Homo sapiens: one gene and its partner. The protein of the gene in region 1 purifies or fractionates together with the protein of each later gene. This does not show direct contact. Each region holds a gene or a part of one and is shown on either strand. Other genes may lie near its edges.

Region 1 (5,320 bases):
TTATTTTGAGCCTATGTGTGTCTCTGCACGTGAGATGGGTTTCCTGAATACAGCACACTGATGGGTCTTGACTTTTTATCCAATTTGCCATTCTGTGTCTTTTAATTGGAGCATTTAGCCCATTTACATTTAAGGTTAATATTGTTATGTGTGAATTTGATCCTGTCATTATGATGTTAGCTGGTTATTTTGCTCGTTAGTTGATGCAGTTTTTTCCTAGCCTCAATGGTCTTTACAATTTGGCATGTTTTTTCAGTGGCTGGTACCGGTTGTTCCTTTCCATGTTTAGTGCTTCTTTCAGGAGCTCTTGTAGGGCAGGCGTGGTGGTGACAAAATCTCTCAGCATTTGCTTGTCTGTAAAGGATTTTATTTCTCCTTCACTTATGAAGCTTAGTTTGGCTGGATATGAAATTCTGGGTTGAAAATTCTTTTCTTTAAGAATGTTGAATATTGGCCCCCACTCTCTTCTGGCTTGTAGAGTTTCTGCCGAGAGATCAGCTGTTAGTCCGATGGGCTTCCCTTTGTGGGTAACCTGACCTTTCTCTCTGGCTGCCCTTAACATTTTTTCCTTCATTTCAACTTTGGTGAATCTGACAATTATGTGTCTTGGAGTTGCTCTTCTCGAGGAGTATCTTTGTGGCATTCTCTGTATTTCCTGAATCTGAATGTTGGCCTGCCTTGCTAGATTGGGGAAGTTCTCCTGGATGATATCCTGCAGAGTGTTTTCCAACTTGGTTCCATTCTCCCTGTCACTTTCAGGTACACCAATCAGATATAGATTTGGTCCTTTCACATAGTCCCATATTTCTTGGAGGCTTTGTTCATTTCTTTTTATTCTTTTTTCTCTAAACTTCTCTTCTTGCTTCATTTCATTCATTTGATCTTCCATCACTGATACCCTTTCTTCCAGTTGATCGAATCAGCTACTGAGGCTTGTGCATTCATCACGTAGTTCTCGTGCCATGGTTTTCAGCTCCATCAGGTCCTTTAAGGACTTCTCTGCATTGGTTATTCTAGTTAGCCATTCGTCTAATTTTTTTAAAGGTTTTTAACTTCTTTGCCATGGGTTCGAAATTCCTCCTTTAGCTTGGAGTAGTTTGTTCGTCTGAAGCCTTTTTCTCTCAATTCGTCAAAGTCATTCTCCGTCTGGCTTTGTTCCGTTGCTGGTGAGGAGCTGCGTTCCTTTGGAGGAGGAGATGCACTCTGATGTTTAGAGTTTCCAGTTTTTCTGCTCTGTTTTTTCCCTGTCTTTGTGGTTTTATCTACCTTTGGTCTTTGATGATGGTGATGTACAGATGGGATTTTGGTGTGGATGTCTTTTTTGTTTGTTAGTTTTCCTTCTAACAGTCAGGACCCTCAGCTGCCGGTCTGTTGGAGTTTGCTGGAGGTCCACTCCAGACCCTGTTTGCCTGGGTATTAGCAGCGGAGGCTGCAGAACAGTGGATATTGGTGAACAGCAAATGTTGCTGCCTGATCGTTCCTCTGGAAGTTTTGTCTCAGAGGAGTACCCGGCTGTGTGAGGTGTCAGTCTGCCCCTCCTTGGGGGTGCCTCCCAGTTAGGCTACTCGGGGGTCAGGGACCCACTTTAGGAGGCAGTCTGTCCATTCTCAGATCTCAGGCTGCATGCTGGGAGAACCACTGCTGTCTTCCAAGCTGTCAGACAGGGACTTTTAAGTCTGCAGAAGTTTCTGCTGCCTTTTGTTCGGCTATGCCGTGCCCCCAGAGGTGGAGTCTACGGAGGCAGGCAGGGCTCCTTGAGCTGCGGTGGGCTCCACCCAGTTCAAGCTTCCCAGCCGCTTTGTTTACCTACTCAAGCCTCGGCAATGGCGGGTGCCCCTCCCCCAGCCTCGCTGCCGCCTTGCAGTTTGATCTCAGACTGCTGTGCTAGCAATGAGCGAGGATCTGTGGGAGTAGGACCCTCCGAGCCAAGCGCAGGATATTATCTCCTGGTGTGCCGTTTGCTAAGATCGTTGGAAAAGTGCAGTATTAGGGTGGGAGTGACCTGATTTTCCAGGTGCCATCTGTCACCGCTTTCTTTGACTAGGAAAGGGAATTCCCTGACCCCTTGTGCTTCCCGGGTGAGGTGACGCCTCGCCCTGCTTTGGCTCACTGGGTGCGCTGCACCCCCTGTCCTGCACCCACTGTCCGACACTCCCCAGTGAGATGAACCCGATACCTCAGTTAGAAATGCAGAAATCACCCGTCTTATGCGTTGCTCACACTGGGAGCTGTAGACTGGAGCTGTCCCTATTCGGCCATCTTGGCTCCACCCCCACCCTTTTTTTTTTTTTTTTTTTTTTTTTGGTAAAAACAGAGTCTGGCTAGGTTGGGCAGTCTGGTCTTGAACTCTTGGCCTCTAGCAATGTTCTCACCTTCGCCTCCCAAAGTGCTAGAATTACAGATGTGAGCCACCGCACCCAGCCTAAAAATTATGTTTGAAGTTAGCTTTATTAAGGTGTCACTTATCTTATGTAAAATTTACCTACTTTACATGTACAATGTGAATTTTAACAAACGTATGCAGTTATATAGCCACCCATACAGTGAAGATAGGAACTATTTCCATCACCCAAAAAAGTTTCTTTCTTTCCTTTTGCAGTGAAGTTCTCTCTCCTACCTCTCTGGCCCTGGTAAACCACCTGTCTGCCTTCTATCACTATAGTTTTGCCTTTTCTAGAACATAGGTAGTCTCTTCTGTGTATGGATGTCTTCTTTCACATTGTAGTGTACTTTGGAGACTCAAACCATGTTATTACATGTATCAGTAATTCATTCCATCTTCTTGCTGAGTGTACTCCATTGTTTATATGTTCCAGTTGAGGGACATTGTCCTTTTGCTTTTTAGAAAACTTTTTATTGGGCCAGGCACGGTGGCTCACGCCTGTAATCCCAGCACTTTGGGAGGCTGAGGCAGGTGGGTCACCTGAGGTCGGGAGTTCCAGACCAGTCTGACCAACATGGAGAAACCCGATCCCTACTAAAAATACAAAATTAGCTGGGCGTGGTGGTATGTGTCTATAATCCCAGCTACTCAGGAGGCTGAGGCAGGAGAATTACTTGAACCTGGGAGGCAGAGGTTGCAGTGAGCTGAGATTGTGCCATTGCACTCCAGCCTGGGCAACAAGGGCAAAACTTCGTTTCAAAAAGAAAGTTTTTATTTTGAAACAATTTTAGACTGACTTACAGAATAATTATAAAGATAGTAGAGAGAGTTTTCATATACCCTTTCCCCAGTTTCTCCTGATGTTTAACATCTCACATGGCCATGGTACAATTATCAACATTTAAGAAATTAATACTGGCTGGGCATGGTGGCTCACGCCTGTAATCTCAGCACTTTGGGGGGCCAAGGCTGGCAGATCACGAGGTCAGGAGTTCGAGACCAGCCTGGCCAACATAGTGAAACCCCGTCTCTACTAAAAATACAAAAAAATTAGCTGAGTTTGGTGGCACGTGCCTGTAGTCCCAGCTACTCGGGAGGCTGAGGCAGGAGAATCGCTTGAACCCGGGAGGCGAAGGTTGCAGTGAGCCGAGACCACGCCATTGCACTCCAGCCTGGGTGACAGAGTGAGACTTCATCTCAAAAAAGAAATTAATATTGGAGCCAGGTGGTGGTGCATGCCTGTAGTCCCAGCTACTTGGGAGACCAAGGTGGGAGGATGGCTTGAGCCGTGGAGTTTAAGACTAGCTTGAGCAATATATCAAGATCCCATCTCTAAAATAATAATAATAATAATAAGGCCAGGTACGGTGGCTCACGCCCATAATCCCAGCACTTTGGGAGGCTGAGGCGGGTGGATCACGAGGTCAGGAGATCGAGACCATCCTGGCTGGCATGGTGAAACCCCATCTCTACTAAAAATACAAAAAATTAGCTGGGGTGGTGGCAGACGCCTGTAGTCCCAGCTACTTAGGAGGCTGAGGCAGGAGAATGGTGTGAACCTGGGAGGCAGAGCTTGCAGTGAGCCGAGATCATGCCACTGCACTCCAGCCTGGGCGACAGAGCAAGACTCTGTCTCAAAAAAAGAAAAAATAATAAAAATATACTTTATTTTAAAAAGTAATATTGGTACAATACTATTATTTAAACTACAGACTTTATTCAGATTTTCATTGTCATTTCTCTAGTCTCCTACAATCTGACAATTCCTTAGTCTTTCTGTGTCTTTCATGACTTTGATGCCTTAATTTTTTTTTTTAATTTTTAAACACTTAAAAAATAGAGACAGGATCTTGCCCTGTCACTCTATTTGGAGTGGAGTGGTGCAATCATAGCTCATTGTAGCATTGAACTGCTGGGCTTAAGTGATCCTCCTGCCTTAGCCTCCTGAATAGCTATGACTATAGGAGTGTGCTGCCGTGCCTGGCTAATTTTTTTCTTATTTTTTGTGGAGATGGGATATTGCAGTGTTACCTAGGCTGGTCTCAGAATGCTGGGCTCAAGTGATCCTCCCACCTTGCCCTACCAAAGTGCTGGGATTACAGGTGTGAGCCACTGTGCCTGGCCTGATGCTTTCTAAGAGTACTTGTTTAGATATTTTGTGTCCCTAGATTTGTCTGATGATTAGGCTGCAGTTATGGATTTTTGGGAAGAATACCGCAGAGGTGATGTGCCCTTCTCATGGTGTCCTATCAGGAGCTACCTGATGTCAGTATGTCCTGTTACTGGCAAAGTTAACCTTAATCATTTGGTTAAGGTAGCCTCTGCCAGGTTTCTCCACCAAGTTACTATTTTTCCTTTTCTGTACTCTGTTAAGGCAAATTATTGCTTTTTAAATTTTGATGTACCTCAATATGCATGGGAGATACATAGCTTTGCAGCTCCCTCAATCTTAATTGTAATAATAATAGTAATAACAATAACTAGCACTTGCTCCGCCTGCATAGTTCTAAACACATGTGCCCATTTAATCCTCATGACACCCTGTGAAGCAGGCACTTTATGCTCATTTTATAGCCGAGAAGACTGAGGTACAGAGTACCTTGCCCAAGGCCTAATAACTAGTAAGTGATGGAGCCAGATCTTTTTTTTTTTTTTTTTTTTTTTTTGAGACGGAGTCTTGTTCTCTCTTGCCCAGGCTAGAGTACAGTGACATGATCTCGGCTCACTGCAGCCTCCACATCCCGGGTTCAAGCAATTCTCCTGTCTCAGCCCCCCGAGTAGCTGGGACTACAGGCATGCACCACCACGCCTGGCTTATTTTTGTATTTTCAGTAGAGACAGGGTTTGACCATGTTGGCCAGGCTGGTCTCAAACACCTGACCTCAGGTGATCCACCTACCTCTGCCTCCCAGAGTGCTGGGATTACAGGCATGAGCC
Region 2 (4,428 bases), on another chromosome or scaffold:
TTATTTAAAAAAAATTTTTTTTAGAGTTGGGGTCTTGCTCTGTCGTCTATGCTGGAGTGCAGTGGCATGATTATAGCTCACTATAGCCTCAACCTCCTGGGCTCAAGTAATCCTCCCACCTCCGCGCCCCAAGTAGCTAGAACTACAGGCACGTGCCACCACACTGAGCTCATTTTCTTTTATTTTTGTAGAGACAGAGTCTCCCTATGTTACCCAGGCTGGTCTTGAACTCATGATCTTAAGTGATCCTCTTGCCTTGTCCTCCCAAAGTGCTGGGATTATAGGTGTGAGCCACTGACCCAACCTGTTTTTTTGGTTTTTCTTTTATGGGGGTTTTTGTTTTGTTTTGTTCTGTTTTGTTTGGTTTGGTTTTGAGACAGAGTCTCAGTCTGTCACCCAGGCTGGAGTGCAGTGGCGTAATCTCGGCTCACTGCAACCTCTGCTCACTGCAACCTCCGCCTCCCAGATTCAAGTGATTCTCATCTCTCAGCCTCTCAAGTAGCTGGGATTACAGACGTGCACCACCGTGCCTGGCTAATTTTTGTATTTTTAGTAGAGACAAGGTTTCGCCATGTTGGCCAGGCTGGTCTTGAACTCCAGGCCTCAAGTAATCCTCCTGCCTTGGCCTCCCAAAGTGCTGGGATTACAGGCGTGAGCCACCATGCCCAGCCCCAAGCTGTTTTTTACTTGAGTAAAAAAAGGAGATCTATCAAATACTGAGGTTCAGTTAAATTTAAATTTAAACTTGAGCTTTTTAAAGCGTTTTTTGAATTCTATACATTTTGATTGTTGTAGCAAATGGACACTAAAAACTAGACAGTCATTTGTGTCTCTCTGTGATACAAGAGAATGCACAAGACCTGAGTATCCAGAAGGTTGGGGGAGCCCAAGTGGTGTATGAAGGTGCTGGCCACCAGCAGGTGGAGTTGGAAGGGCTCCCTAGTACCATCTGCGCCCACCCCTGCCCAGGGCTAGGCTCTTCCTGCATGGCTTGCTGCCTCACGAGATGGCTCCTTCCTCTCCTGTACAGTCCCAGAGTAGAAGGTTCTTCCTTGTAGTAAACCACAGCCTCTCTCCCATTCAACTCTATTTTCCATTTCATATTGGTCCTGCAAAAAGCAAAGTCTTTGAGGCCCAGTGACACTCAGTTTTAGGCTAGGTTGACTACAAATTAAATACTTGGAAAGCAACTCTTAATTTTCCCATTGACTTCCGTTAGAACATTGGAAGATATCTGGATCTGCAGACTCTGCTAGACTGGACTGAAACATTTTGGGTGAGAGAGGAACTAAGAAGGCCACCCTTGGTACTGGCATGTGAGGTGTGGTTGAGCCAGGGAGCTGAACCTATGGAGTGCTTCCTCCTCCAACAGTTTGTGGCTGCTTTTGTAGTACTCAGCATTTCCCCTAACTTTCACCACTCATGGAGGACTCCCAGGTTCCCACGTGGGACTCCTGGAGCTCTGTACTGCACCTGGGTTTGTCTGAGATTTACAATGTCTAATACACTTCACCTAGGCTGTCATTTTTTCATTATAAACTAGAATCAGAGATATTGTATTGCATCCTCAGATTTTCCTGAGTGGTATTTAAGTTGCTATTATAGTGGTACTATAAAGTCAGGATTCCATATATTCAGTCTACATAGGATAAAAATGTCTATGTGACACCAGGTGTGGTGGCTCATGCCTGTAATGCCAGCACTTTGGGAGGCCGAGGCAGATGGATCACCTGAGGTCAGGAGTTCGAGAACAGCCTGGCCAACATGGTGAAACCCCATCTCTACCAAAAATATAAAAATTAACCAGGCATGGTGGCACACACCTGTAATCCCAGCTATTCGGGAGGCTGAGGCAGGAGAGTCACTTGAACCTGGGAGGCGGAGATTGCAGTGAGCTGAGATCATGCCATTGCACTCCAGCCTGAGCAACAAGAGCAAGACTTTGTCTCAAAAAATAATAATAAAATAAATCTATGTGACAAAATCTATGACTTAATATCTCTGTGTCTTGATTTTTTATTTAAGATGTTTTCTTATCAAATTAACACATGCTTGTTTAAAAATATTTGAAAAAATAGAAAAGCTGGAGGAAAAGGAGTCATCTATGGCAACACCTAAAACTAAAATAGCTGTTAACCTCTTCCTGAATCTCTTTTGGGTATACAGTGTATACTTGTTTTTTGTCTTTTTTTTAAAAAATGGGATCATAAAATACAGTTTTGTAACCTATTCCTAATCTCCTGTTGTAAATGTAGTCAGCCCTCCATATATGTGGGTTCTGTATCTGTGGATTCAACCAGCCACAGTTTGAAAATATTTGAAAAAAAAAATTGCATCTGTACTGATGATGTATAGATTTTTTTTTTTTGAGACAGAGTCTCGCTCTGTTGCCCATGCTGGAGTGCAGTGGCACGATCTCGGCTCATTGCAAGCTCCGCCTCCCGGGTTCACGCCATTCTCCTCCTCAGCCTCCCAAGTAGCTGGGACTACAGGCGACCACCACCACACCCAACTAATTTTTTCATATTTTTAGTAGAGACAGGGTTTCATCGTGTTAGCCAGGATGGTCTTGATCTCCTGACCTTGTGATCTGCCTGCCTTGGCCTCCCCAAGTGCTGGGATTACAGGCGTGAGCCCCCACACCCAGTGGATGTATAGATTTTTTGTTCTTGATATTTTTCCCTGAACGATACAGTATAACCACTATTCACTTAGTATTTACATTGAATTAGGTATTATAAGCAATCTAGAGATGCTATAAAGTATAGGGGAGGATGTGTGTAGGTTATCTGCAAATACTGCACTGTTTTATATCTGGGACTTAAGCATCTGCAGATTTTGGTATTCATGGGGGTCCTGGAACCAATCTCTCGCAGATATCGAAGGACAAGGCTATCATGTGTTTCTAGTGTCTGCTTAGCTAGCTGGCCCAAGCCCCTAGATCATGCAGAGACACAAGCTTCACAAAGCCCTCTTCTCTGAGACTGGGCAGGCTGTTTCTAAGCTGTTTTGCATGGCTCTTTTTGCTACTTCGGATTTACTTGCAGAGGTCTTCTCATTAATTTTTCTTAGCTTTCGTCTGTTTATTTTGTCTGTCTGTTCACCATTCCCATCCTTTGGCCTTTTCCTCAGCCATGTTAACAAGGCAGGTGTAGGGCAGTGGGGCCCCAGCTGGAGTCCAGGTATCTGCCCCAGGGTTGAGTCTGCATTCAATGGGGTGACCATAGGGCCCCATCTGTTACTTGGTCTTAGCTGCCCTTTTGGGAGCCACGTCCCTAGCTGTCATGCCTTGGGAAGGTGAGTTTACCTGGGCACATAAGCATAGTTCTGAGAGCAGCCTCTCCTTCTCTCAGTCAATCGGCACACTCTCTTTTCTGCTTTCAGGGCAAGTTTCTGGCTTTTTATCAGTATGCAAAATCATTTAACTCAGATGACTTTGATTATGAAGAGCTGAAGAATGGAGACTACGTCTTCATGAGGTGGAAGGTAAGTTCCCACCAGGTGGCCCTCCAGACTCCCAGCAAGCCAGGCCCTGTATCGCACCTACATATTCACTCTAACCAAGGGCTCCCCATGTCCAGTGCTCGTCACAGCTGGTTGTCATGGCAAAGTCTTCATGGCAGGGTCTTTGCACGCCTATAAAAAGTGGGCCCAGCTCCAGGGCACGCACTGGTTAACTGCCGATGTCCCAGACAGCTCCTCCTCGCTGTGCTTTTGGTGGGTAGCAAGTGGATTTGGGCCTAGGTGGCTGCCTCTAACATTGTCTTCTCCCTTTCCTTTCTCCCACCCAAGAATCTTGTTGAACCCCCAAGTTGAATCACTCCAAGTGTTCTGTGGATTCAAGGCAGAGCCAAACTTGCTTTGAACTTAGTCATCAGTTGTACCCAGATCCCTCTACAGGCTTAAACACCATCCGTGGGCCAGGTGCCCTCCACCACATCCTTTTCCCAGAGCTCAGGAAAGTCTCACCTCCTCTACTTCCCTCCAGCTCAGGAAATGAGGGACCGGGAATGGAACACGGGTTTTTGACTCAGCAGACCTCAGAGAGCCCCACCTGACTGACTTGATGGATTGGCTTTTAGCTGCGAGGTCATTTGTGCTCCCTGCTTTGATAACGTGATATTTACAGCCCCAGAATAGCAAAATCAGGAAGCCAGTTTGTTAAATAACTTTGAGAACATACCAACCCCTAGTCCCCAGTCTGCAGGGAAAAAGTCGTTTTATCTTGAAATCTTGTCAGCTTTCATAAAGATGAATCATATTGAGTTGCCTTTCCTGGTCTTTATTTTGCATAGCTAACCACTTTAGGAAGTGGGGATCGGCCGGGCGTGGTGGATCACACCTGTAATCCCAGCACTTTGGGAGGCTGAAGCAGGCAGATCATGAGGTCAAGAGATTGAGACCATCCTGGCCAACATGGTGAAAACC

What was found. Proteins that work in one complex are often made in the same cells at the same time.
Region 2: the proteins of GCH1 (region 1) and GID4 purify together in Homo sapiens (affinity purification with mass spectrometry, with the first as the bait; one large-scale study listed by BioGRID). This does not show direct contact.

Annotation. Positions count from the first base shown.
Region 1 is NC_000014.9:54,867,319-54,872,638, reverse strand, and holds part of GCH1 (GTP cyclohydrolase 1), read left to right. Parts: intron 1-5,320. UniProt on the Homo sapiens protein: Positively regulates nitric oxide synthesis in umbilical vein endothelial cells (HUVECs). May be involved in dopamine synthesis. May modify pain sensitivity and persistence.
Region 2 is NC_000017.11:18,055,484-18,059,911, forward strand, and holds part of GID4 (glucose-induced degradation protein 4 homolog), read left to right. Parts: intron 1-1,219; coding exon of another isoform or gene 1,220-1,543; exon of another isoform or gene 1,544-1,988; intron 1,989-3,384; coding exon 3,385-3,486; intron 3,487-3,792; coding exon of another isoform or gene 3,793-3,816; exon of another isoform or gene 3,817-4,265; intron 4,266-4,428.